2 linked regions of the Homo sapiens genome follow. The gene in region 2 interacts genetically with the main gene of each other region. Each region holds a gene or a part of one and is shown on either strand. Other genes may lie near its edges.

The links.
Region 1: changes in PKN2 (region 2) and EGFR together harm fitness more than expected from each alone (negative genetic interaction), as found in Homo sapiens cells (2 studies listed by BioGRID).

What each region holds. Positions count from the first base shown.
Region 1 is NC_000007.14:55,022,017-55,035,032, reverse strand, and holds part of EGFR (epidermal growth factor receptor isoform a precursor), read right to left. Parts: intron 1-13,016. UniProt on the Homo sapiens protein: Receptor tyrosine kinase binding ligands of the EGF family and activating several signaling cascades to convert extracellular cues into appropriate cellular responses.
Region 2 is NC_000001.11:88,824,348-88,837,363, reverse strand, and holds the end of PKN2 (serine/threonine-protein kinase N2), read right to left. Parts: coding exon 12,978-13,016; intron 8,884-12,977; coding exon 8,741-8,883; intron 4,621-8,740; coding exon 4,513-4,620; intron 4,288-4,512; coding exon 4,207-4,287; intron 4,120-4,206; coding exon 3,916-4,119; 3' UTR 1,109-3,915; downstream 1-1,108. UniProt on the Homo sapiens protein: PKC-related serine/threonine-protein kinase and Rho/Rac effector protein that participates in specific signal transduction responses in the cell.

The sequences.
Region 1 (13,016 bases), on a different chromosome or scaffold from region 2:
CTCAAGTGTGTCACATGCCACTACTGTGCTGTACAACCTCTAGGATCTCATGGAAGGTAAACACAGGACAAAGGTTAGACCACCCTTCATCCCACTTGCAAATCAAATATCTATTAAATCCTCTCACTGTTTAAAGCAACTATGCCACTAGTGATGTCCATAAGATAAATTATTAACTTTGAACCGTTAGCTTTTCCATGTTTGGTGTTTCTTGCAGCAAAGCAATTTATTTTTACTCACAGATTTAAAACAACTTTAAAAATAACTTTTATATGCTGCTAGTAGGAAACAGCAAGTCTCCAGCATGCATTAATTTATGATCAGTCTATTAACTTGCAACTTAGAGAACAATGATAAGTAATCAGATAAAGAGGAAGGACAGATGGTTGGCGCATTTTTTACAGTTCCATATAACACGCGCAGGCCTTATTACACACTAGGTGAAGAGACAGGAATTTCTGAGGATGGACCTCAGAAGACAGTCACAGTCCTTGGGTGTGGGTGTGTACTGGCTCAACACCAGTCATCAGTGAATCAAGCAATTCCTGCAGTAGCTCAGTTAATTCCAGATCAAATAATAATGGGCACCTGGCCAACATGGTGAAACCCTGTCTCTACAAAACATACAAAAATTAGTCAGGTGTGGTGGCGGGCACCTGTAGTCCCAGCTACTCAGGGGGCTGAGACAGGAGAATCACTTGAACCCGGAAGGTGGAGGTTGCAGTGAGCCGAGGTCGGGCCACTGCACTCCAGCCTGGGGAAAAAAGTGAGACTCTGTCTCAATACAAAACAAAACAAACAAACAAAACAAAAACAATAATGCAGAGGGGGAATACAAATCCATTCTTTTCTCACTTGAGGAAGCCAAAACATTGCCGAAAGGGCCAAGTGCTCCAGGCAGGGTGTGTTTGCCTCCCTCCTCACAAGATGGTCCAGGCACCTGGGGAACCATGAAGATCTACAGCTGGACCCTTGGAAAGTGTGCATGGCCATCATTGCCATGTCTGCTTTAGTGATGATGGGGGAGAAAGCAGAGCAAGAGAAAAAAAACAAGAAATGGGCCAGTCACAGTCGTCATAGTAAAAGTCCTAAGGTAAAAAGAGCACAGGAAGAAATCATCAGGGTTTCTGAAGTGAAATGAAGAGGGTTATCAAAACTGGCCCAGGACTATGCAGGAAACAAAAAAGCAACACTCTTGAGGGAAAGTGAGACCCACCAGGGAAGCAAAGTGAGGGTTGGTGGGATGTCACCTGAGAGTCCCGCCATGGAGGCAAGGGATGGTCACCAAAGAGGAGAGCCAAGTGGAGCCTTTCTCCTGTCTGGCTCTTGGCGACTTCCCAGGGTCCAGACCACGGGAAGGACGTCTGGGGCAAAGTCATGTAGCCATGGAGAACACAGGCTCTCTGGTGAGAGCCCAGGCCCGCCTCCCCTAGTTGGAAGGCTGTCGTGCACACATGGGGCACGCTCCAGCCTCTACACCACCCTGTCACTGAATCCCCTCTGCGACCCTATGAAATAAGCACCAGGCCTACCCTCATTCTGCAGATGAGGAAACTGACACCCACAGGCATTGCTCAGCATGGCCAGCATCCCCTGCAGTCCCCAGGGGGCCCTGAGTTCAAGGCCAGGGCATATGGCAGAGTCTGCCCTGTGCACATCACGTCACCTCCCTGTGCTTCACAGGGAGCAAGAGGCTAACAAGTCACTTTAATGAAAACAAAACAAAACAAAAAACACCACAAGGCAGGTCTTAAGATTTTTTCGGTACATTTGCTTTGTATATTCATATGTTAGTCCCATGTCCACATTTTGCTTTTTCTACTTACAGAGAATTTACCCTCAAAATAGAGAGTAAATAGAAAGTTGCTGCTTTTTCTAGAATAAAATAGTCATCTATTGAATGTTAATGATTAGTTCTAGAATCACACTGACCTATCTCATTCTTTAGCCTGCTATAAAAATTTTCAGATTGAGAAAATCATTCATAGACATGACAATTTTGGACATACTGAGAACCAGTGGAAGTTTTCAAGCATTGTTGAAGACTTTGCTTTAAGAGCATTGTGATTCTAAGGGCTTTGAACACTTGGCACTGGTGGCTTATTTTGACTTCCAGCGTGGTGAGTCCCCTTTACCCTGCAAAGGTAGTAAATTCCTGGCTGAAAAAGTGCCCTGAGTATCCCTTTTCCCTCTCTGAGTCAAGAAACTCCTGAACATTTTCTCCATTTTTAATAAATGACATATATATTCTATCTTATGGCCAGAAAAAAATACAAAGGGACACTGATTTGTTAGGAGAATCAACTCTATGCCATCCAGGATGCATATATGATTGAAAAATGAGCAGAAATATCTGCTGCAAAATAGTAATAACAGAAAGCATGAGACAGTCAGAGAACCAGGCAAAGATGGAATCATCAACTTAACCAGCCAGCAAAGCTAGCTGTCCCTGATCTGGGAGTCAGATGTGTCAAACTGTGAACACGTCCGGGTCATCTGCGTCCTCATTCAGTTCCCCAGGATGCCAGGCCGCTGCCTGCCACACATGCAAAGGCTCAGGAAAAGTGTGTGCTGGTGCCGTTCTACATAGAGAGTGAAAATTCACGGGAGCAAACTCTTTTTGAAATAAATTGCATCTTCAGATATCATTTTTTCCCTTAAGGCCCATTTAGCCTCCACCATGCTGTGCTAAGCTGCGTCCTCAGACAGAGATGGGCTGAATGATTTAATCATCCTCTGTCTGCCTCTAAGGATGATACCACTGAATTGGTATGTTTGATGTCTACATTTCAAAATCACTGGGTATTAATTAGTTATCATCTGTTACTTTTGAGACTTCTCTTAAACTTAACTGGGCCTTTTATGGCTTGGCAGAACATCTTGTGAATGGGACATAGGGCGATTGTGAGATCAGTACTACTGTTAATAACATTACGTGGTACCTAGAGGTTCTCTCAACTAAAAATCAACCTTGAAAACAGTGTTCAGAAGTCACCAAGCCTGCAAAACTTCTACTAGGTGACCAATGTGCAGTCAACATGCCTGTGCTCACAACAGCCCCTCTCACCTGTGACCACCACCTCATGCTACCTCTTCCCTTGTCACCTAGTGAAAGAAGACAAGTGTGGGAGGAAAAAGAGTGCCCAATGTCTTCTCAATATTAAGTCAGAGGAATGCTAATATTTTCCTTTTCCAAAATGCGAATAAAAACAAAAAACCCCGAAGAATATAATATTGGCAACTCTCTTTGCCTTAGCACCCAATTCTCATCGGCTCCATCAGCAGAATTTAGGCCTTGAGTTCGTGACTACTTATCTCCCTGGCTATAGTTTGAATGTCTTGTTTTTGCAACTGAGCAACATTATGAACATTTAGTAGCCATTGCCCAAAGAATCTAAAAGCCTAGAATTCCTAGCCAAGACTTCAAGAACTCTGTCATGTGATAAGGAAAGATGGACTCAGATAATCACCCAAGTCTTCTGCCCTTCTGGGACTTTTCTCATTCAACTCTCTCCCTGACACCAGGCACGTCACTACTCTGCATCTAAACAAGAATCTCTAAAGGTGGAAAGTGAAGTGAAAAAGTAGGCAACTCACCTGATTCTTCATGTTGTCCCACTTCATCAAATTGCTGAACTTTCTGTTCTGCCTTGGCCAGGTAGATTTTTGTTGACTGAAGGTAAAATAATGATGCTTTTGCCCAAGTAACCTTTGCAAGACTTACAGGTTCAGTGGCTAAAGCCACCCTGAAATCAATATACTAACTGTCTGTTTACTGGAAGGGTTTACTTATTCAACAAGAGATACGTCATCACAGGCCTGAAAAATCGATGTGTTCTCCTGGCAATCCTCTCTAAACCTGCAGCACCTAGATAACAACTGGAGATCCATTGCTCAGCTGGAGTGCAGGACTTTTTCCTTTGCTACTTTATAATCATGAAATAGAAAATTGCTTTTGGGAAATTTCTGCCAGAGTACTGAAAAGTTTCCACTATGTTAGGAATAAACAATAACAAAACAGTTTCTTCCTTTCTTGTGGAGGAAAATGAACACTGCATTTTGAAATTTCTTCTGGGAGAGGCACATCACCGTCACTGAGAGATCTACTCACTGCCGCACTCTCCATTCCATTCCTTCAACCCAGAAAGTGCCTCCAAGTGAATAATTTGATGTGTGAAACCATCTCTTCTTAAAAGCCAATGCTTGCAAGTAAATCCCAGCCAGAATAGCTTATTACAAATGGTATGATATGGAAAATGAACACTCTTGGAGGGCCACACTGTTTCTTAAGTTTGTCTCTTTTTGTAAAAGCTGTTTCACACCCTAAAGAGGTTAAGTGTATGCCTTCATTTAAATCATAGAAATGAGTCTTACAAATCTATGTAAGGGAATTACTACAGCTTGCCATAGGCATTGCTAACTGACCCAACTGCTAAATCAAGTTGCCTTCTCCTTTCATTTTTTTTCTGCAAGTATTTATAGGTCTGGAAAATTTACAGAAGTTGATGACACAACGTTGAAAAGTCATACTTCTCATTTCTAAAGTAAATATTTTCAAGGCTCACAAATTCACTGCCCTGTATCTTATGGAATGGGCAGTTATAACACATACAGAAGAGACTTGAGTCTAAAAACTACTTCATAACAAAAAAGAAACCTGGGAAAGGAACCAAAACAGAGCAGAAATACACAGAAATATACAGAAATTGTGAGGGACATTAAGCATTAGTAACAGAAGTATAACAAATTTTGAGGAATACTTTATTTAGCCTTTGATTCACAAATAGAACTAAAAGTGATGGGGCATCCATAGCTAAAAAACCCAATGACGTCTTGAAGGAGGAATAAGTAACCTTGACCTGCATGTTGAGAGACAGTGCTGTGTAGCAGGAGAGCACCCAGTGCCCACTGATCACCAGCCTGGTGATTACGGACAACAGCAGAATCGCTCTGAGCCTGGGTCCCTCACCTCCCAATCTGGAAAGCTATCCCAATCCTGTGGGGTTGTAGGAGGCTGAGAGAGAAGAATGTTAAGGCATTGTGTAAACTATGAGGTGCTGTACAAATGCGAGGTGTTGTTATTATTATGACATCAATGTTTTAGCATCTAAATTATAGGGACAGCACACTTATTACCAGCATGTTTAAATACATATCTTGCATACATTTAGATTTGTTTTTAATTTTACAGATGTTTTCAGCTGGAAGGAGTCTGACGATCGTCTAGTTTAGCTGTTTTATGGAAGGTGAAACTGAGAGGGGAGACTCTAACCTGTTTTCTCTCCCCATTATAACTAACAACAAATTACAGAAAAAAATATGTTAAGCCGCGTACTAAGAAAAACTCCCTTAACAACACCACTTTTCAGGGAGCAATACATGTGTATGCATACTTGTATAACCATGAATACTGAGTGTGTTTGGTACTTTCTAACTTTTGAAAATTATATAGTATATTTTTACAGTCATTTGACAAAGTTTTTCATCTGCAGTCCTTTGCAAAGTTTCATTTCCAGTTATTTATAAAAATTTTTCTTTCTCTGTGAAGGCTAATTCATAACAGCTTGTAAAAAAGAAGGAGCGAGGAAGAGAAAGAAGGAAGGGAAGAAGAAAGAAAGCAAGGAAGGAAGAAGAAAGGGGAGTAAGAAAGAAAACAGGGCAATACACTATTCTCACTCATAAATGTCACCAGAAATTAAAAAAATCAAGAAACATCTATAAGGATAAGGTTTCTGATTCTCTATTAACATTGTAGCAAATTGAAGCCAAGAAAAAGTTCTATAGTGCACTCTATTTAAAAGCCTCTCAAAATTAGTACATTAAAAAACAACAGGTGACACAATAATTCTCCAATGACCACTTTTTTTTTGTTTTTTGACTGAGTCTTGCTCTGTCGCCTAGGCTGGAGTGTAGTGGTGTGATCTCAGCTCACTGCAACCCCTGCCTTCCAGGTTTAAGTGATTCTCCTGCCTCAGCCTCCTGAGTAGCTGGGACTACAGGCACGTGCCACCGCACCCAGCTGTTTTTTTTGTATTTTTAGTAGAGGCGGGTTTCACCATGTTGGTCAGGCAAGTCTCAAACTCCTGACCTTGTGATCCGCCCGCCTCGGCCTCTGAAAGTGCTGAGATTACAGGCATGAGCCACTGAGCCCAGCCAACCATCTTTTGTTTATCTGTCATATGTTTGGACTTAATCAAAAGTGGATGACATCTGACATTGGGGTTCCAGGGTTTTTGTTACCTATAAACAGATAATTGCTTAACTTTCTAATAATATATTAAAATATACTTTATTTTAAAAATCTAGTTGGAGCCATTAGATCTTGCAAGTTAGCACTAGAACAAACTTAAAATAGTTTGTCTAGTTTATCTTGTTCGGCACAATTTGAAGCATTTACAATGGCTTACAGTGTATGAGAATGAACTAGGAGATAATTTTGTAAGTGAATAGAAACCATTGTAATAAAATCTCCTGAAAGCTTTCAGGTATTCAATGATTGCTGGTAAATAAACAAAACCAGGTTTTTGAAATTAAAAAAATGTTTTTGAAAAAGTTTCTAAAATTTGGTATACAATGATCAGAAAATCTCAGGACACCTTTGCCTGTCCTTAAGGACCTGCACAAATTCACTAAGTGGTTTGTTTTTATTCCAGCACTAAAATAATGGATAATTTGAGTATCAGCAGAGACACTAAAACATGCACAGTTTTTCACATACAAATGCCAGTTTGTCTTATCAGAGAGACTATGTGCAATGCATCAATTTTATCCAAAACCTGGAGTAAAGGAAAGAAATTTTAGCAAAGGGTTGTAATGACATCATAAGTAAAACGATAGGACTGCTAAAACAATCATGACGTCATCTGCTGTGCACTGGCCTGCAAGCATGTAGTGGTAAAATCGTCAGATATCACATTTCTGCTTATAAAATAAAATCCTTCATGAATGCTCTTAAAACAACTGCAAAGCAAGCAGTGGTCTTTACCTCCATATGTGTGTGTGTGTGTATATATATATATATATATATATATATATATATATTTTTTTTTTTTTTTTTACATAAAGGCATGAATATACAAGGTAATGTCAGCAGCTGTACTCCACTCTTTATTTGTTGCAAATCTACCTATTTGTTTCCAAAGGATGTCTGCAAATAAATAGGTAACATTGTACAGCTTTCAACAGTGGATCAGAACATAGATGTCTCTTCTAATTCACAAGTACCAATGGCTCAATTAATTTAAGGGACATTTTCTGAGTTGTGTGATTTCACATGTATTTATCGTGTCTAGAACTGTGCAAACTTTTGTTTCATTTCTCTCTTAGATTTCTGTAGGAAGAGTTAAAGGATGTGAAGTAGTCATTTTACTTATTCATAACACATTTTAGGGAAAATTGTGCTGTTGCTGTTGGGGAGAAAGTTAAAGCTATCAACTATAACCTGGACTCCAGTCCAATTTTTCACATCTGGTTGCTACTTTTAAAAAGGATCATTTTAATTTTTAAATGCAGAATGTGTTGCACTTTATCTTTGACATTCCAGGTTTCCTCATGGTCATTTAGAAAAATAAAGCAGGAAATTCTAATGCCTTAGCATCTACTTTAATAAGATGTTTGCATTTATAAAAATAACAAGAAACTGAGGGTTTTGCTGAAGGAGCACAGGGCCTACAAGTATTTCCTCATTCCTGTCCCTGTGCCTGGAGGCCCAGCTAAGCATTCTGTTTCTGAGAAACTCCCCTTGTCACAGAGGCTGAATTAGTCAGTCCCTCTTTTGGGCTCCCACTGAAATCCCAAATCACATCTGTTATAAAACATTGCATTACAGGGAGTGATCTTGTATGTGTCTCTCTTTCTCAGCCCTTCCAAAAGGTAAGTCGGTCCTCAGAGGACAAGTGCAGTTATTTTGTTCCCTTGGTGTATCTAGATCCCAGCATGCGATGTGCCTGGAGTATATCAGCAGTTCTCAAAATCTGGCATGCATCAGTCAGAATCTCCCTGAGGACTTGTGTGCACAGACCGGGGCCTGCCCTTCCAGTGTCTTACTCAGAGGCCAGGGTGGGGTCCAAGAGTGTGCATCTCCAACAGGTTCTCAGGTGCTGCTGCCATGCTGGGCCCGCTGAAAGCCACTGCAGAAAGCTTTTTTTTTTCCCTTTTTTTTTTTGGCAGTTAAAGAGAGGTTTTCTTTAGTTAAAACCTGGGAGGCACTCCTGGTGAATTTTGGTCAAGAGCGCTTTCTCTTACAGACTAGGAGTATATATTGGTTTTAGGGTGAGGGAGATTATCAGAATTTTGGAATGTTCCTGTTTGAGGGAGAAGTTTTATGGCAGGGTTGGAATATCTCTGGGAGGAGGCAAGTTTATCTTGGGGCAGGCATCTTTCCGGCCAGAGAGAGGTTATCCCGAGACTGGCATCTTCCCTGCTGGAGGGGGGTTATCTCGGGACTAGCATGTCTCTGGTCGAGGAGGAGTTTCGAATGTTTCCGGTTGGAGATGTTATTTGTGGTTTATGGTCATGCTGACCTTAGCCATTAGGCTGATGCAGTTTGAATTTAGGCAGTTTTTTATTAAGGTGAACTTTAGAATGAGGGGCTTGTCCAAGATGGCGATGCTCCTGCTCTGTCGAGCCAGACCCTATAGTTATAAAAAGGAGGAGGGGTGGAGTGTTCTTTCTGGCTATTTCCTCACTGCAGGAAACTTTTAATGGACTAACTTGTGAAATAAAATGTGACTCTGGAACTGATTTACTAATGAAATATGCAACTGTTTCTGGATCTCGAAGGAGCTCATGAGATGAGTAAGAAATGGGGGTCTGAGAGCAAAGACAAGATTTCTTTCGTTACGAGCTACATACAACATGTAATCCACTCCTCAGAATTGCCAAGGGAGCTTTAAGAAATGTGTGTGTGCCAGGCTCCATTCCCCAGAAATACTGATTGTCCTGGTCTGGGGCACAGTAAGGCACCCTCTTTTTCAAAAGCCCCTCAGCTGGTTAGAAAGCATGGTCAAGGTTCAAAAGCTACTGCTTTAAGAAAAAAGAAAAAAAATCATCTCCTACTTTTTTTGGTTCAGCCACTAGCGTACAAAACCAAGTAATGTGATGTGGTCTTAAGCAGGGAACAAGAGATCCCCATTCCGAGTATTTGCAGCAATATATAAACATGACTTCTGGTACACTTATATGCACAATATATTATATTACCAGTTGCTGATAACTGCAACTAATCAGCTGCTGACTATAGCAGCCTCACCTAGAGAGAAGCTGGTATCCAGAACCCCTGGTGTGGCTCAATTTCGATGCTGACGGTGAGCATGAGACAGGTGGAGCCAGGAAACTGTGAGAGGAGAACTTGTTCTGTGATCTAAGACAAGTAACTGACACGGAAATATGTGAGCAAATGACAACTCAAGCCACATTGCTCTCCTGTGCTCTGGACCACCGTATTCTACTGCCTCCTGGACTTCTCCATCTGAGCACTTCAAGCTCAACACATCTAAAAGCTGAATATTGATATTGGACCCTCCTGCCCTTCCTCTTCTCCTCCCTTCCCTTCCCTTCCCTGCAGTCCCATTGACTTCCCAGCCTTTGTGATTGCATTCAGTATCTATCCAGGCTTCCAAGTGAGAAGCCTGGGTGTCAATCTGGGATTCTTTCTTTCTTATGCTGCTACATATACTTATCAACCAGTTCTGCCTCCTGATCAGCCCCGGAGTCCCCTGTCCTGAATCTTCCTTGCTCCTGCTTCATCCTCTGTCTCTGGCAATAGTCATGAACCTTCCTGTTTCCAATGCCACTCCTGCAGTCCATTCCCCAAACCGCTGCTGCAGCCATCTTTCTAAAACACCAAACACAGCATGTCAGTTCACAGTCACTTCTCTTTCACACAGGACAAAATCCAAAGCCACAGTGAGGATGGAGCTCTCTGTGAACTGTAGGTAGCCTTACCATTTATTCCTTCTCTTCCTGCCATTTGAATTACTAGCACTCTCAAGAACTTTGCTGCTATTGGCACTGCTTGTGTAATGCCCTGCACATCCTATTCTCTGGGGAAATAATCATATAACCAAATAGCTCAAATGAGTAATCCCTTCCATTTGTGGCTAAACGTGCTCTCCTCCCCATGTAGAATTAAAGGCAAAGACTGAACTCAAAAGTCATCCTTTGTCCTGGGAAGAGTTCCGTCATTGATTCTGTGACATTGTTTCACACTTATTATCTCTAGCTCTCTTTCCCCAGTTGACTTCCAGACACTTAAGGGCAATTACCAAGTCTAATTTATTCTTACATCTCAACATATGGATGCAACAGTGTAAATCACTCATCATGGCTCAAACATAAAGAAAAAAAAGCCTAAGTTGTAACAGGTACCAATACTTGCCCTTCTATGCAAAGGGCAAACAATCATGGTTGACTTACGTAATTATTTAAACTAAGTCAGGGCCATGTGTGCTGCCGCGCTAGTAATGGTGTAATTGCAGGTGTACTTAGGGCTGCCTGCAAGGCATTCTCATTGGGTGCCTTGTCCCCTAAATTATAACTTGAGTCTTTTGTTAATGAGAAGTTCCAGATATATTCAGAAAGGACACTTGGACTCCGAGTCTCTCCTTGAAAACCCACCAGAATGAGATAAAACTTGGATCAGAGAGAGAAATTCTACTCCCCCATGTTAGTGTTTCCATACTGCTTGCTAAAGCAAGCTGCTGAAACTGGTAGGAGTAAAATTTACTCTAAGCATATGCAATTCACAGATGCTCAGTCCACAGGACCAGTCATTTGATACTGAACTTCAGGGCCTTCAGGGATTGAAATGTCAAATCTAGCACTTACTTTCTAGGGGCTCAGTAAACACACCCCCAATATTCCTGGCCCCAACTACCCCTCCTGCTCCCAGCTGGCTCAGGGAACTTTCTAGACAACTGGATTGAGTGTATCTATCTAAATGTGTAGCAAGAAAGCTTTATCAGATGACTCTGAAAAAGTGAAAATTACAGGCAAACTAGTTATTTGAATAAGTTCCAATGCCTGGATTCTTGCCCAAATTCAAACTGGCCAGCTTGTGCCTATGGGCCCAATGGAGGACAATCTAGAGATGTCGTCCAAAGAGCCAACTGCTGGAATTTTCTTAGAAAATTCATTCCTGTAGGAGGAAAACGAAAAAGAACGAATGAGAAAACACTATGATGTTTAATGGGGATGGCCTACAGGAACAAGTTAAGATTTACACTCTATTCTCTATGGATTAGTGGTTCAAGAATAAACCAGTAATAATTAACTGAGACTAACAATGTTTATTACCATAATTTCAAATGTCCATAAGTGATAAAGGAAAACAAAAATGGAATGGATCTGAGGAACAGAATCTGTTTTTTTTTTTTTTTTTTTGAGATGGAGTCTCACACTGTCGCGCGGGCTGGAGTGCAATGGTGCGATCTTGGCTCACTGCAACCTCTGCCTCCTGGGTTCAAGCAATTCTCCTGCCTCAGCCTCCTGAGTAGCTGGGATTACAGGCACCTGCCACCACGCCCAGCTAATTTTTTTTGTATTTTTAGTAGAGACTGGGTTTCACCGTGTTGGTCAGCCTGGTCTCAAACTCCTGGCTTCATGATTCGCCTGCCTCGGCCTCCCAACGTTTTGGGATTATAGAGGTGAGCCACCATGCCCGGCCCAGAATCTGGTTTTAAAAATTATATTTACAGGGAAGCAACATGTGGGTGAACCATATTCTAAAACTTTGAAATTTTCTCAACACATACCCCTATTAGTAAAACCCAATGTTAAATAAGCTCATAACTAGAGTACTTATGAAGTCAAAATTAAAACACGCACACACAGACACACAGGCACACACACAAGTCACATGGCAAGGGCCACACTGTGTTGCAGGTGGGTTCTGCAACAGGCGAAATGTCCTCAACATTGTGACCCATCCCTATTCCGGGGCACCAGCCTGGGGTTACCTTCCCTTCAGTGCCCATAATCATCAATTGCCTTTAATATTAGAGTTGGTTTGTCACTCTCGTCAAAAAAGTTTCAGATGCTAGCTGCTAGTCTTAGAGCTTAGATCAAAGAAAAAACAAAGAATATTTTCTTTTCAAACAGGGAGGAATCCTTCATCTTTGCTGAGACTACTTCTAAAAACATTTCAGAACATGTTAGTGCTGTCACGTGGACCAAGTGTAATTATGCAGCACAATGGACTTTCGGCAATCGGTGTCTTCAAACCAGAAGTTTTTGAAAAATCATGAGTTATGAAACTAAATACGTGAAGCCAGAAATTACTGTTAAAAGCCTATTGGAGCTCTCAGCCAGTTTCTTGTATTCTGTGCTACGGCAGTGTGGGTCTAACACACAAACCACTGGTGTCCTTTCCAGATTTGAAAGCAATCTGGAAGCAAGAGCAGAAACCCTTAAAACTCACCCCCCCTTCAACCTTTAGCCCAGAATATCTAGCATATTCTATGCACTCAGTAAATATTCACTGAATTCAGAAACAACAGCTCAGAAGCCTGAAGGGTCAAAGTGACTTGTCCACCTTCACCCTGGGCTGGAGTGAGAAGAAAGGTCCCAATTGCCAGGCCGGGCTTGGGCTTTCTTGATCTGACCTCCTTTGAGGAGGGAGGGTGGGGTAGATCTCACTTTGGATACCATTAATATCCCCACTTTGGTTTCTCTTTAAGACAGCTCGGACCTACTGAATGGGAACGTCTCCAGAAGTGGGGCTGGGCGGGCTTATTTCCACAAAGCTCCCTCAGTTGGGAATTCGACTCGCCTTGGAATACTTTCCAGTGTCCCTTCTGGAGAGCACCTTCATCCTGTAAGAGGCAGGGCTTTGCTCAGCACCCCTCAAGCAGTCTCCACTCCATGCTCACTGAACTGAGGACTAAGCTGCCTCTATGGAAGGTGACCCAACAGAGGGCTGAGGAACTCGGCAGGAATGCAGACTGCCGGACAGCCCGCGTTGAAGCTTCAGACAGGCTCATCGTCATGAGCCGGCTCCCTGGGCCCTTTCCCCTTGC
Region 2 (13,016 bases):
AGGCTAGTCTCAAACTCCTAACCTCAAGCAATCCTCCTGCCTTGGCCTCCCAAAGTGTTGGAATTACAGGCATGAGTCATTGTGCCTGGCTGATAATTCTAATGTACGAAATCTCTGACAGGGATATCTAAATTTAATATTTCTGTTGGTTCTTATTCAAGGTAACTTGCTGTCTCTCGCATGTGGTTAGGGATTTCTGACAGTGAATTACTTGATCTTAATCTGTGGAATCTGATAGTCCCAACCTGGAGAAGCTTCCATCCAGAGAATATTTCCTTCCACTGTCAGGGAAAGAGTGACATGCAAACTAAAATATGAACTCGTCTACAGGATTTAAGCACAGAAGATAAGTCCTGATGCTATTGCAAGGTTTGCTATCCTCAAAATTGTGTTGCTAGAGAAATCTATCCTTGGTAACCCCACTTCTCTTGGGTGCCTGCATTTTCAAAACCTGCTCCTTGCCATTGTGACTCCTATCTTTTCCAACTTCCTGCTACTCTGCCATACTCTGTAGACTCAGCTTCCAGTTCTCTCAATATTCCTACTTTTGTGCTTGAGCACTCCCACTCTAACTCTTAGGTGCTGAAGCCCTAACTTGTCCAGACTCTGCTCAAGTTTGTTTGCTTGTTTTGGGGTGAAGGGTTGCCAGAGACCACTCTTACCTTTATTGAGATCATCAATACCTCAAATTACGTATCTTATTGACGGTCTTCCACTAATTTTATATGTATATGTATACATATTATTTTTAATAACTTTAAAGCCTCTACCCATCATACTAATGTATAAAGCCAGTATCTCAGAAAAACCCTAGACCTCAAAAGATGGCTGGAAGGTAAATAAGAATTCTAAATTTAAATTAAGGTTATGATCTGTGGATTAGTATTTGCTTCTTTGGATTTTTCATACTTACTCCTTCAGTGGCTTTGGGAATACTGGCAGTACTTGCAAAAATCTTGTTAGACTTGAATCTGTACAGCAGATTTACCAAGTCAATATATGATTGCAATTTCCATTATGTCCTCAATTTGTGTTACAGGGAGAGCATGGATCATTTTATATTTCTAAAATATTCCATTTGTAATTTTTAAGTAAGATTACTATAAAATACTAGTATTCTGTTTTATTCATTTGCCTTTTTGAGAAGCCAGGTCCTAAATTAAAATAAGCTAACCTCAAACAAGAGAAAAGTACATACAATACTGGTGCTTGCATCTTAATTAAAACAGGCTGTTCTTCATTCATCAACATTTTGTTGCTTTAAAAAAAAAAACTTCCTATTCTCAGTATCTATACACAGTAAGCAGTCCATAAATATGCTTCAAATAAAAGATGCTACTGACCTTACAGGAGCAGAATACAAACTTTTCCCATTATTCCCAATGAAGTGGACAGTTTGCTCTGAATGTTCATGGTTTTAAGCCTTCACTAGGACAAAAAGTACTTGCAAGAATGTTTATTAAAGTTAATTAGTCTTTGAGATTTTGAACACAGAAAAGTTAAAGTATATTTTAATCATTAGGAAGTTTCTAAAAGGAAAGAATACTTAAAACCAAAGTTACAAATTTCAATCTATATAGACTTTAATTTGTGCATTTGTGATAATTTATGACTGCAAAAAACACTTGTTTTCTTAGAATGACATAGTGAAAGGCACATTTCATTTGAATGCATAGTGTACCATTCTAAAATATCCTAATTTCTTTACAAAGTGCTTGAGCAGTCACATACACATACAGTAATAGCAAAATATATTTACACTCTATAAAGCTTAAAATTTTAAATCTGACTAAAATATATATATATTTTAAACTACAAAAAATTAGTGCTTTCTTCAGCTTAATTGTGTAAATAGACCCTGCCTTCTAATTTTTTTAGTGATTGACTTCAATTAAAAAAAAATTCTGTACACTGTGTAGTTACGAAATGCTGTCAGTTTTTAATGCTAAGAGCCTATTTTAGACATTACTTTCTTTGCTATTTGAGAACCAAAAAAGTGAGCAGACTGTACCTCAAAAGTATTTAGTGTTTTATTTTAATGTTGTATTAACACAGTTTAAATTAAAGCCAGACAATTAAGCTAAGTTCCTCTATTGTCCTTTGCCGAGGAAATTAACTGGCATTTTAAAATAACTTTAAACCACATATTGTTCCCCCATTCTATAAGATTTTCTCCCAAAGGATCTTGGGTAATAAACAATTTGGAAGGTAATATAAATGATCTCTGGACAATTTTAATTGTTCTCAGAGTACAATGAAAAGATGCTAAAACATCCCAGCAAATATTTATAAATGTTTTTAGCTCAACTCTCCATAAATCAGTGTGCTTTTTCATGTTTCTCATAAGATTTACACCTGAACAATTTTTAAGAGATGAGCTCACTGTAATTAAATAGTTAATTCAGTATGGTTACTTAACAGCTTGCTATTCCTGAGGTATAATGACCCTAACATGCTAAGCACAGGATCAAAGATGCTATTACTAAACTAAGAAAAAACAATAAAGTCATAGATTAGGAGAAAAAAATATAAAATCAAACCAAACCAAAACAAACAAAAAACTACAGGCAAGTGGAAAGTCATGGTTTGTAAAAAGACAACCCTAAAAGAGTATAAAAAGCCACAGACGGATCCTTTGAAGAGTTGTATAAAATATTTCATCAAATTATTTTTGAGACTTTTGAGGTACAGCTTTAGTGTTATAATTCATTTTTTAATAAAATATAGACTGTTTTATCAAAAATATTTATACATTCTGTTACAATATATTGCTTTTGCCCTCAATAACTGCCAATATAAAATCTGGATCCAGTGGCCTAAAATGTACAAATGCACTTAATGTAAATGCTGGAGTTTGAGGTGTCTGCTTGGCCACTGTACAAAAGTGATGAAGTGGTAAAATTAAATAATAAGCCTACAACATAGAATACATTAAAACTTGCACATATACATGTTCACAGCATGTATACAATGATAATCCCTACGGTTTAACCAAGTTATGGTTCCCTTCTACAGCAGACACAAAACCAAGGTGAACTAGGTTGGCAGATGTAGAGTGAATACCAAAAAAAGGGTAATCGGTTCACTGATTCTGAAAGATATGACTGAACATACTGAGCATCTAGACTTTGGGAATGCATACAGGTAACAATATCTTGGTTCGGCTGATTAAAAGTCCTCATTCTTAACATCTTAAGTAAATGCTGATCCTGTTTGTTTCAGCACTGTTTAATAAACAAAAAAAATTGTTTGGCAAGCAGCTCTGTTGGAAAGCTATAAGCCTGTTACATGATTGATAAAAAAGGCAATATAAAGTTTTCTCCTAATAAATATAGAACATTTATAAAATAAGACATCAATTCATTCTGTTTTTTTAAAAAAAATCAAGCCCCGAGTTGTATACAAACTGCCACGGTTTTTGATATTACAGTAATGTCTTTTTTTTTAAAAAAAGGAGCATTTGCCTTATTCAAACAGAATCATACTTTGTGTGAACAGTAATAGCATTCCAAGCCCTTTTTTCTTTTTATAAAACATAGTTAAGTGATTAACTTTCCTTCCACTTAAGGCGGGCATATGGCAAAGCTAGGGACTATAAAAAAGTGGTTTTTTTCTTTCTTTTTAAAAATAGACTATTGATCCAAAAGTATTCGTGATGGATTTTCATGGCCGATGTTCACTCAACTTAAACTCCATGAAACTGTTTCCAGTGCTCATATTTACGCTGAAGTACAATGAGGAGCCACTTTTGAAGAAGTATTAGAATGGTACTTTTAAACAAATCTTCACGTGTTTCAATAAAAACAACAACAACAAAAAACTCAGAAGCTATTGGTGGCACAGAGAGCAAATGAAGGGTTGCTATTTTTAAGAGGTCTTCTTGTGAGTCAGCTTGGTTTCGCAGTGTCTAGCAACTTAACACCAATCAGCAATGTAGTCAAAATCTCTGAACATTTCCTGCTCCTCTTCCGAAAGTATCCTTGGTTCTCGAGGTGGAGTCAGAATAGGTGCTTCTGAGGTAAATTCATCATCAAAATTACTAACATCTTCTCGTCCTCTTATGGTAGGTATAAATGGTGGCTTTACTTTTTTGTCCATCAGAGCGCTCCAATCAATTAGCTGGATCATAAAATAAAAAATGACTAGTTTAGTTTGTTAAATCTAATCGCTCTAGTTTCATAAAAAATTTTAAATAGTCACACTTACCCGGAAAAATGGGTGCTTTTTTACATCCTCTGCATCTTTCTCGCTAGCCCCAAGGCGCCGTTCAGGATTTCTTCTTAACAGCTAGCATAATGTAAAATAAAAAAGTTAAAATAAAACCAATAGAATAAAATTCACTGATAAGGATTATTACTTTAAAAAACTTAGATATATTTTGTCTTTTTTTGTCTAAGCCATGCAACATTTATGAACTGAAAAACAGCTTTTAAAGTTCTACTGGGAAATTTTCTTTAGTATAAAAAATTAAAGTAGTCTTTAAAAAATTCTTATCCTTATTTTAATTCTTACCCTTCTCATTATAGAAATGGCTTCTGTAGATAAGAACCTTGGATACCTTACTTCATCATTTACAATACTGTCAAAAACTTCCTCTTCATCATCACCAGGAAAGGGAGACTAGAAGAAATACCTTTGAGTAAGTTAAAGCAAGTTTTAAGGCAGTAAAATCTTATCACCCATTCAAAGTACAACCAAGATCCAGGCAGTGAAAAAGAAAAAACAGACAAAACAACAACAACAACAACAACAACAATAAACCCATGCCTACCAAAACAACAACAAAAGAACTATAAGAAGTGACAACAGATATGTATCTATTACAGAGGGAATACACCATATACTCTTTCTGAAATCTTTAAATTTTATAGACCCTTATAAAAAACTTGTCTATCTCATATATGATATGACTTTTCATTTAATTTCATTCCACTCCATTCCATTTTATTTCATTCACTCAATCACCTATTTGGCCAGACAGTCAATTTTTAGTGTCTAACAGACAGTAGGGAATATTTAGATAATAGATAAATCCTGAAGAACCTCAATCTTGTGGAAAAACAGAAGAAAATGGATAAGGTTAATATGGTAATAAATGTTATAATAAAGGAAGGCAATCTGCGGAAATACATCAGATATAAATGTGCTTTGGATTTTAAAGTCAACAGTAAATTAATGGTGGTAAAACACAATCATGGATTAGCAAGCATAATGACTGTATTAAGAAGCAGCTGCCAACAAAATTAGACTGAAAGGAACCCAAAAAGCACACATTGCCAGGCATTTTTAATGTTCTAAACACAAAAAGTTTTAGGGCATTTCCATAAGCTCAGTATTAAAATCATTTTTCATAATGACCCTGAGACATAAAAAAGTAGTTACATTATATTCAGTATGACAATTTGATTCACAAAGAGAGAAACTTTCAACTATGCTAAAAACGTGTCTATCAAATGTGACTGCCTGCCTCAGAATTTCAGATGGCTTAAAAATCACTCAGTCATTTTTTAAATCAGGAAACAAATGTCTAAATATCATTTAATTCCTTAAAATCACTGAAATGAATTAGTATCTTGAACCTTATTTTCTCACTGGCTATTGAAGAAATATAGGCTTACTTAGCCTCGTTAGATTTGATTTGGCTGCTTGCTTCCAATTAAGTTTTAAAGAATAATAAGCAGAAAGCAATATCCAGGGAAAGTGAGCAATCTTTAAGAATCTGTGAAAATAAATTCAGAATCCAACTTCTTAAGGCTGAGCTTCTAATCTTGCTCACAGCTAAGAAAATTTCAAAGCTTACAGTTACCAAAACCTTAGTTTGTTCATTCACTCACTCAAAATACATAAATAAAATATACTACGTGGGACAATGTAGTACACTCAAAATACATAAATCAAATGTACTACATGGACAATCTAATTTCTTCTGGGGACTGAAACAGTAAGTCAGAAGAAAATTTTATTTTACTAGGATTCTCAATGGGAATTTCAATGGATAATACAAAGACAGCACTTTGGTCTTCTGCTTGAACAATTTTTACTTGAAAACTCATTCTACAAGTCTGAACAGCAAAGAAATATCTATACATTTGTTAAAATATGTAGTATCTTTTTTCTGCAAATAGATTGTAAGCAAACAGGGCTAACAACTGAAAGCTAACAAATGTGTTTTCAGCACATTTAAAGGAAACCAATAGTCTGTTCAGATGTCAACACTGACAGTATCTAAAACCATGTCCAGCATTCTGTTCAATCTCTCTGGTATCTTCACTCCCATCTGAGACAGGAAAAAGGGGACTTGCGATGTTTGTTTATTCCTGGAGTCTTTCCAGTAATCAAAACTAGTAGAAGTATACAAATCTGAACATGTATAATATATCCGGTGAGTTTACAATTATTTGTAATAATAGAGAAATCTGACATAAACTTTAGCCACACCTTACTTTCATCATAGTTAAAAAGGAGTTATCACTAGCATTTCACTAATGCTATAAAATTATGAAGTAGACTGATGAGTTTTAAGTTTAGTTCTTTTCCCAGCTACCCTCTTGTGGAGATACTAAAGAGAAATTGCAAGAAACAACTGTGAAGAAATAGCCAGATCCACTGTCTTTTATCTTCTAGGTAATTAAGAGCTCAATCAATTAGCTCTTTTAAAAAACATGAAACAGGAGCTTCCTTGTTTTCTGCCAAACCCTCCAGTGGCTTTATAATAGGAGGGAGTAGATTCAACTGGATTAATTCTACAGTATTTTGTAATAAACTCATATTTTGCACATGTCATCTCTAATATGGAGAGTAAATTTTAAGCAAGCACATAATTGAATCTCATAAATCTCATACTTACTTGAATACTACATGAAACAAAACCAAAAAAACCCTCCAAAATGTTACTGTTAAAATAAAGGAAGGGGGTGGGGAGGAGTTCAAGTATGCCAGAGCTTACAGCAGATTAACTATTTTATGAGAACTTCTGGCACTCTCAGAAAGTAAAAGCCACTGTGGACTGGAGCTAAAATAAATCTTTCCAACCTAAACACTGCACAACAGCTTTTCTAAATAGAGGTGAAAAATTCAGATCTGGACCACTAGTCTTAAGAACAGAAACAAGGCTGGATGAATTGAAGATCCTGTCCTGGAGCAGCAAAGCATAATGCTTTAGATATGCTCTGGAGCCAGAGTGACAAGGTTAAAATTCCAGCTCCACCATATGAGAGCTGTGTGACTTTAAGCAAGTCATTAATCTCTTTGTGTCTCTATTTACACCTCCGAAAATGGGCAGAAGATCAGTACTGAGCTTATTAAAGGCTGTTGCAAAATTAAATGAACTAATATTTAAGGCATACAGTACAGTGCTTAGCACATGATAAATTTTAATTAGCCATACTTCTCCTCCTTTTCCAAGGAATCCACTTCAAATTGACATACCAAAAGGGGTTATCCATCCGGCGAAACTAAAACCATTTGTTTGGGGTAAGTGCCAATAAATGACAAGCATAGAACAAAACTTTAGAAATTTCTGATATTCAATTTGATAATTTGTTCATTCAGCACTAACTTCTTCAAACTTACAAGTGTACAAGGGAGGTTGCTGGCATGGGGAAACTGCAGAATAATGAACCAATCCCTTAAAATAATTTTTCTTGCATCTCCAGTTCAAGTCCCTTCAAGTAATCTTCAATTACTTATTAAAAGATTTACTCTTTCCCAATTTCATCCCAATTCAACATTTCTAACAATTTATAACATAATAAATTATTAGTCTCCTATTATTGCCTTAACATAACTCACTGTTTCCTAATAGTAATAATTTCTATGTACAACTCAATTATCCTCAGAAATTTAAGTTAATCTACAGAAAACAGTAGGAAAAAATGCGAATTTTTTCAACTCTACCATTTTTTAAGGTAACACTTCTTTCATTTTTTTAAAATTATATTTTATTTAACAATCTAGGAAGTTCACAGCCATCAGCAGTTCTATAGCAACTTCAGGTGCAACTGGGAATTCAGGAATCTCGGTGGAGCTGTTGGTGTAGCGAATACTTTTGATAGCACATGTGAAGGTATCTCTCTCAAATTGACCTCATTGGTTTCATTCTCAGCAAATTGACCTGGGCCACTCAACATGGCTTTTATCGTGCTGATGTTAATGTACGTTCTGTTTTTACAATAAATTCATGGCCATCGGATGATATCAATTTGACATACATGGCATCAGGGCCTTCACAGCTACCATAGGTTTTCTCCTCTCTCCATCCATTTTGTTCTTACGAAATTCTACTTTGCTTCCCCAGGAACTTCAGTAGTTTCCCGGTGAAGCAAGGATGCAGAGTGTGTTGCTCAGACGGAAGTCTGGAGGAAGTCGAAGGTAACATTTATTTCTGACCAATCTATAGTGGGCTTTTCTTTACAGGTACAGAGTACATTCCTTTTATTAGTCTTTCTGTTATTCCATTCCCTATAAAATGACTATGTCTTAAAATCAGAAAACATAATAAAAGTACAATACTGAAATACAAGGAACTATTTTCAAAGCACTGATAGTGCATTCCACAAACCACATAAAAATCTTTATTGAAGGTATTACAGAAAGATAGCTGACTACTAGTATACTATAAATATTTATAAAACTTAAATTCCACTCATACTGAAGACAGTATTAGGTGGTTTTATAAATGACATGCTTTATTATTTCAATCATCCTTCCTCTGTTCTCTTACCTATTTCACACTGCTTACCTCACCAACAAGCATTTCATATATAAGCACGCCAAGGCCCCACCAATCTACAGCCCTTGTATAAGAAGTTTCTGTTAATACTTCTGGGGCAAGAAATTCAGGAGTGCCACAAAATGTGCTTGTTCTATCTCCATATCCCATTCCTGGAAAAGATAAAATGTAAACATTTGTTAGCAAAGAAAACAAATCTAGCATAAAAAAAAAATCAAAGCTATCTTTGGGAGGCAAAATTAAAGTTGCACATTTGTGCATGGTGAACAAATTCAGACATATCTAAGACATTTCAAGAAAACAGTAAGGACTGGTATAGCAAAAACTGCAATAGCAACTATACTGTCTAATTAATGGGTAAATAGAAATAAGATATCCATGTTTCTTTTCAGTTACTTTTTCTTCTTGTCATTACAAGGGAGCTAAGAAATTATAACAAAATGAACTGATTGTGAAGTTCCATTATCTTTCCAATTCAATCTTAAATAAGTTTATTTACTTCATTATAAAATCAACATTCTAAAAAAAATAAGTTTCAAAAATACCAAAAAGCAAACCCTTGGATAATCAGAAGCTGACCAAATGTGTCATATAATACAGAGAGATAGGGCCGTGTGCAGTGGCTCATGCTTGTAATCACGGCACTTTGGGAGGCCGAGGCGGGTGGATCACCTGAGGTCAGGAGTTCAAGACCAGCCTGGCCAACATGATGAAACCCGTCTCTACAAAAAAAACAAAAACAAAAATTAGCCGGGCATGGTGGCTCCCGCCTGTAATCTCAGCTACTCGGGAGGTTGAGGCAGGAGAACTGCTTGAACTTGGGAGACGGAGGCTGCAGTGAGCTGAGATTGTGTCATTGCACTCCAGCCTGGGTGACAAGAGCAAAACTCTGTCTCAAAAAACAAACAAACAAAAAACATATATATATCTCAATATATATTATATATAGAGAGAGAGAGAGGAGGGGACGGGAGGGGAGGGGAGAAGAGGGGAGGGAAGGGAAGGGAAGGGAAGGGAAGGGGAGGGAAGGGAGAGTACAGGTTGAACATCCCTAATCCAAAAATCCAAAATCTAAAATGCTTCAAAATCTGAAACTTTTTGGGCACCAACATGATGCCATAGAGAATTCCGCAAGTACTTAAGATTAGTTTCATGCACAAAATTATTAAAAATATTATATAAATTTACCTTCAGGCTATGTATAAGGTATATATGAAACATATATAAATTTTGTGTTTAGACTTGGGTCTTGGCCTCAAGATATGTCATTATTTATATATGCAAATATTCCAAAATCCAAATAAATCTGAAATTCAAAACATTTCTCATTCTAAGCATTTTGGATAAGGGATACTCAGCCTGTATTAACATTTTGGCTAACTAGTTTTTAAATATATGTTCCTCATAATTTATTAATATGTTAATCAAATATATAGTCTACATATTGAAGATATTATCTCTATGTATTCCAAAGTGTTAAAAACTTGTCATAAGTGTCATCTTTTTAAGAATTTTAAAGAAAAGCTCTCAATCCTAAATTAAGAATAATTAGGTATGCATATATAGTGACTATAAAATAGAAATGAATGTGTGTCTATGAACCAAGACCTGAAGGGCACAATTAGATACATTAGCACACTGGAGTGGAGAAATTTTTTTTTGGCAAAATTTCTTTAACACTATCATAATGATTTTTATTTTCTTCAATAAAATATTATTTAAAAAAACAGTGATATAGTATTAATATCTATGTAAGTTCTGCACCAGCCTTTTAGTAACTTGGAGAAAACTAGGAAAAAGTTAATTAATGAAGAAATATAACTTATGTTTCTTGTAGACTGGTAAAACTCCATGGAAGTGGTTAATATCAGGCTCTAGATTAATAAATACCTGGTTTAAGTTCCAGTTCTGTCATTTGTTAACTGTGGGAGGTTGGGAAAGTTGTCTAACATCAAATTCTAGGTTTCTTCATCTGTATATGAGAGTTAATAATACCATCTACCAGTGTGGAATGATAAGACAAGGAAGACTCAGAAGGGTGAGGAGGTGGAAGGGGGGTGGATGATGAGAAATTACTTAATAGGTACAATGTATGTTATTTGGGTGACGAATATCCTAAAAGCCTTGATTTCACCACTATGCAATTTATGCATGTAACAAAATTGCACTTCTACCCTATAAATTTATATAAATAAAAATAAAATAAAAAATAAAATATTTCCTCCAAAAAAACTATCTACCTTCATACGATTGTTATAAATTACAGGAGATATGCATATGAAGCAAAATTCTTGGCACACGGTAAGCACTCAAAAGTTGTTAGCTATATAATCTACTAAACATGTTTTTATGATAATGCATTAATAAGTCTGGTTATTCAACACACATATTTTCTGCACCTTTTATGTTCTAGGCACCTGTGTCAAGTAGCGGGAACATAAAAACGAGAGTAAGACACAGTCTTTAAGGGGCTTACAGGAGACTGGAGGGAAATGGATATTTATTGATAATTTTATAACAACAAGGGAAGAGCAAGATAAGGTAGAATAGTGAAGAAGGGCTCCTAAAGCAGACTTGGGAGTTGGGGTAGTAAAAGGGAATCTCTGGTAACTTGCCTGTAGAGGTTACACTTGAGTTGAATGACAAGGATGAGCAGATGTTAGTCAGCAAATAGAGTTGGGATGGGTGACAGTGCTAGAGGGACACAGACTATAAGCAGTTCATTGTTGCTGCAGCAAAAAGTACTAAACAGAGAGCAGCAAGAGATGTGGCCAGAGAGGAAGGCAGGCAGATCAGTAACGGCACTGTATGTCACCTTATCCTAGCCACTGAAGAGTTTTCAGCAGGTATGTGCCATGGTCCGATCTGTATTTATATGGACTCCTTAAGCAATTCAGCAATTACATGGCAGGTTGATTTGGGATAGAAAAAGACTAGAAATAGGAACAATTAGGAGATTATTATACCTGTCTTGTCAAAACAAGATAATGGGTGAAAGGAGCTGACTGGAAATGATAGATTTCAGAAATATTCAGGAGGTTAAGTGGCAGTAGAATTTTGTGAATAACTACATACGGGAAGTAGAGAACAGGATAGAACGCAAGATAATTCCTTACTTTCAGATTGAAGGCTGAGGGGATTGTGATACCAACACCCAGACTACCGGCGGAAAATAAATGATTTTTGTTTGGGTAGTGTTTGAGGTGTCTCTTCACTATTCAGGCAGAGCTGTCTAGTAGACAGTTGAATATATATCTTTGGAATCCATAGGAAAGGAAATAATAGATTTGGGAGTCATTAGGATATAGCTGCTAGTCAAAAAATTGCAGTGAAGAGCAGCCGGCTAAGGAGAGATGCTGAGAAACAAAAGCATTTAGAGGAACAGTGTCCAATAAAAAGAAGCCCAGTCAAGAAAAAACTTACTTGATTCAGCAATTAGGTCAGTGGGTATGTGATGGGCATATATCTACAGAGTTCATTCATTTATTCATCCAACTACTTATTAATCAAACACTTACTGAATACTTAAGATGTACCATGCACTGTGTTATGCACTATGGAAACAAAGCTAAATAGCAAACAGAAGCCACCAGTGCAGAGGGAGATAGAGAATGTTAGTAACTAGTAAACAGAAAGAACTATGTCCATTTTTTTATAATTGGGGAAATAAGACTCAAAGAGGTTAAAACTAAGTTTTCCAAAGACAAACAGCAAATAGTGGCAAAGCCACGATTCAAACCTAGAACTGTTTAGTGCCTAAGCCCATGATCTTTATCCTTTCTTATGTTACCTCTGATTCAAATTTCCCCAATTTACTTATTTACTTTTGAATATACAAAAAACATACATGAGATACCTATCTCTATTTATTTTCTATTTTTAAATGTTTCAACTTTAAGAAGCTGGAAGGAAATTATCAGGCCTATGAAATTCACTGTGTACAGTCTCACCAGAATAAACGATTTTGGTGCTTAATCAATACTTCCTTAAAGTAGTGACAAAATTATTAATCACACAGAGAAGCTTACTATGATTTCTATACATCTAACCTTATTTGTATTCAGAGAACAAATTCTTAATGTGATAATTAGGTTATATAAGCAATGTTTTCATTGTATCTACAATGTCTTAATGAAGAATAAAGTTAAAAGTACAGTTTGTTTTCCATAGACAAACTTGAAAACTACTGATGCACAAAGAAACAGTAATTCTGAATCAGAAAAGAAACTTAAAAACATTCGATTACCTTCTTTGCAAAGACCAAAATCAGCAATTTTCACAAAGC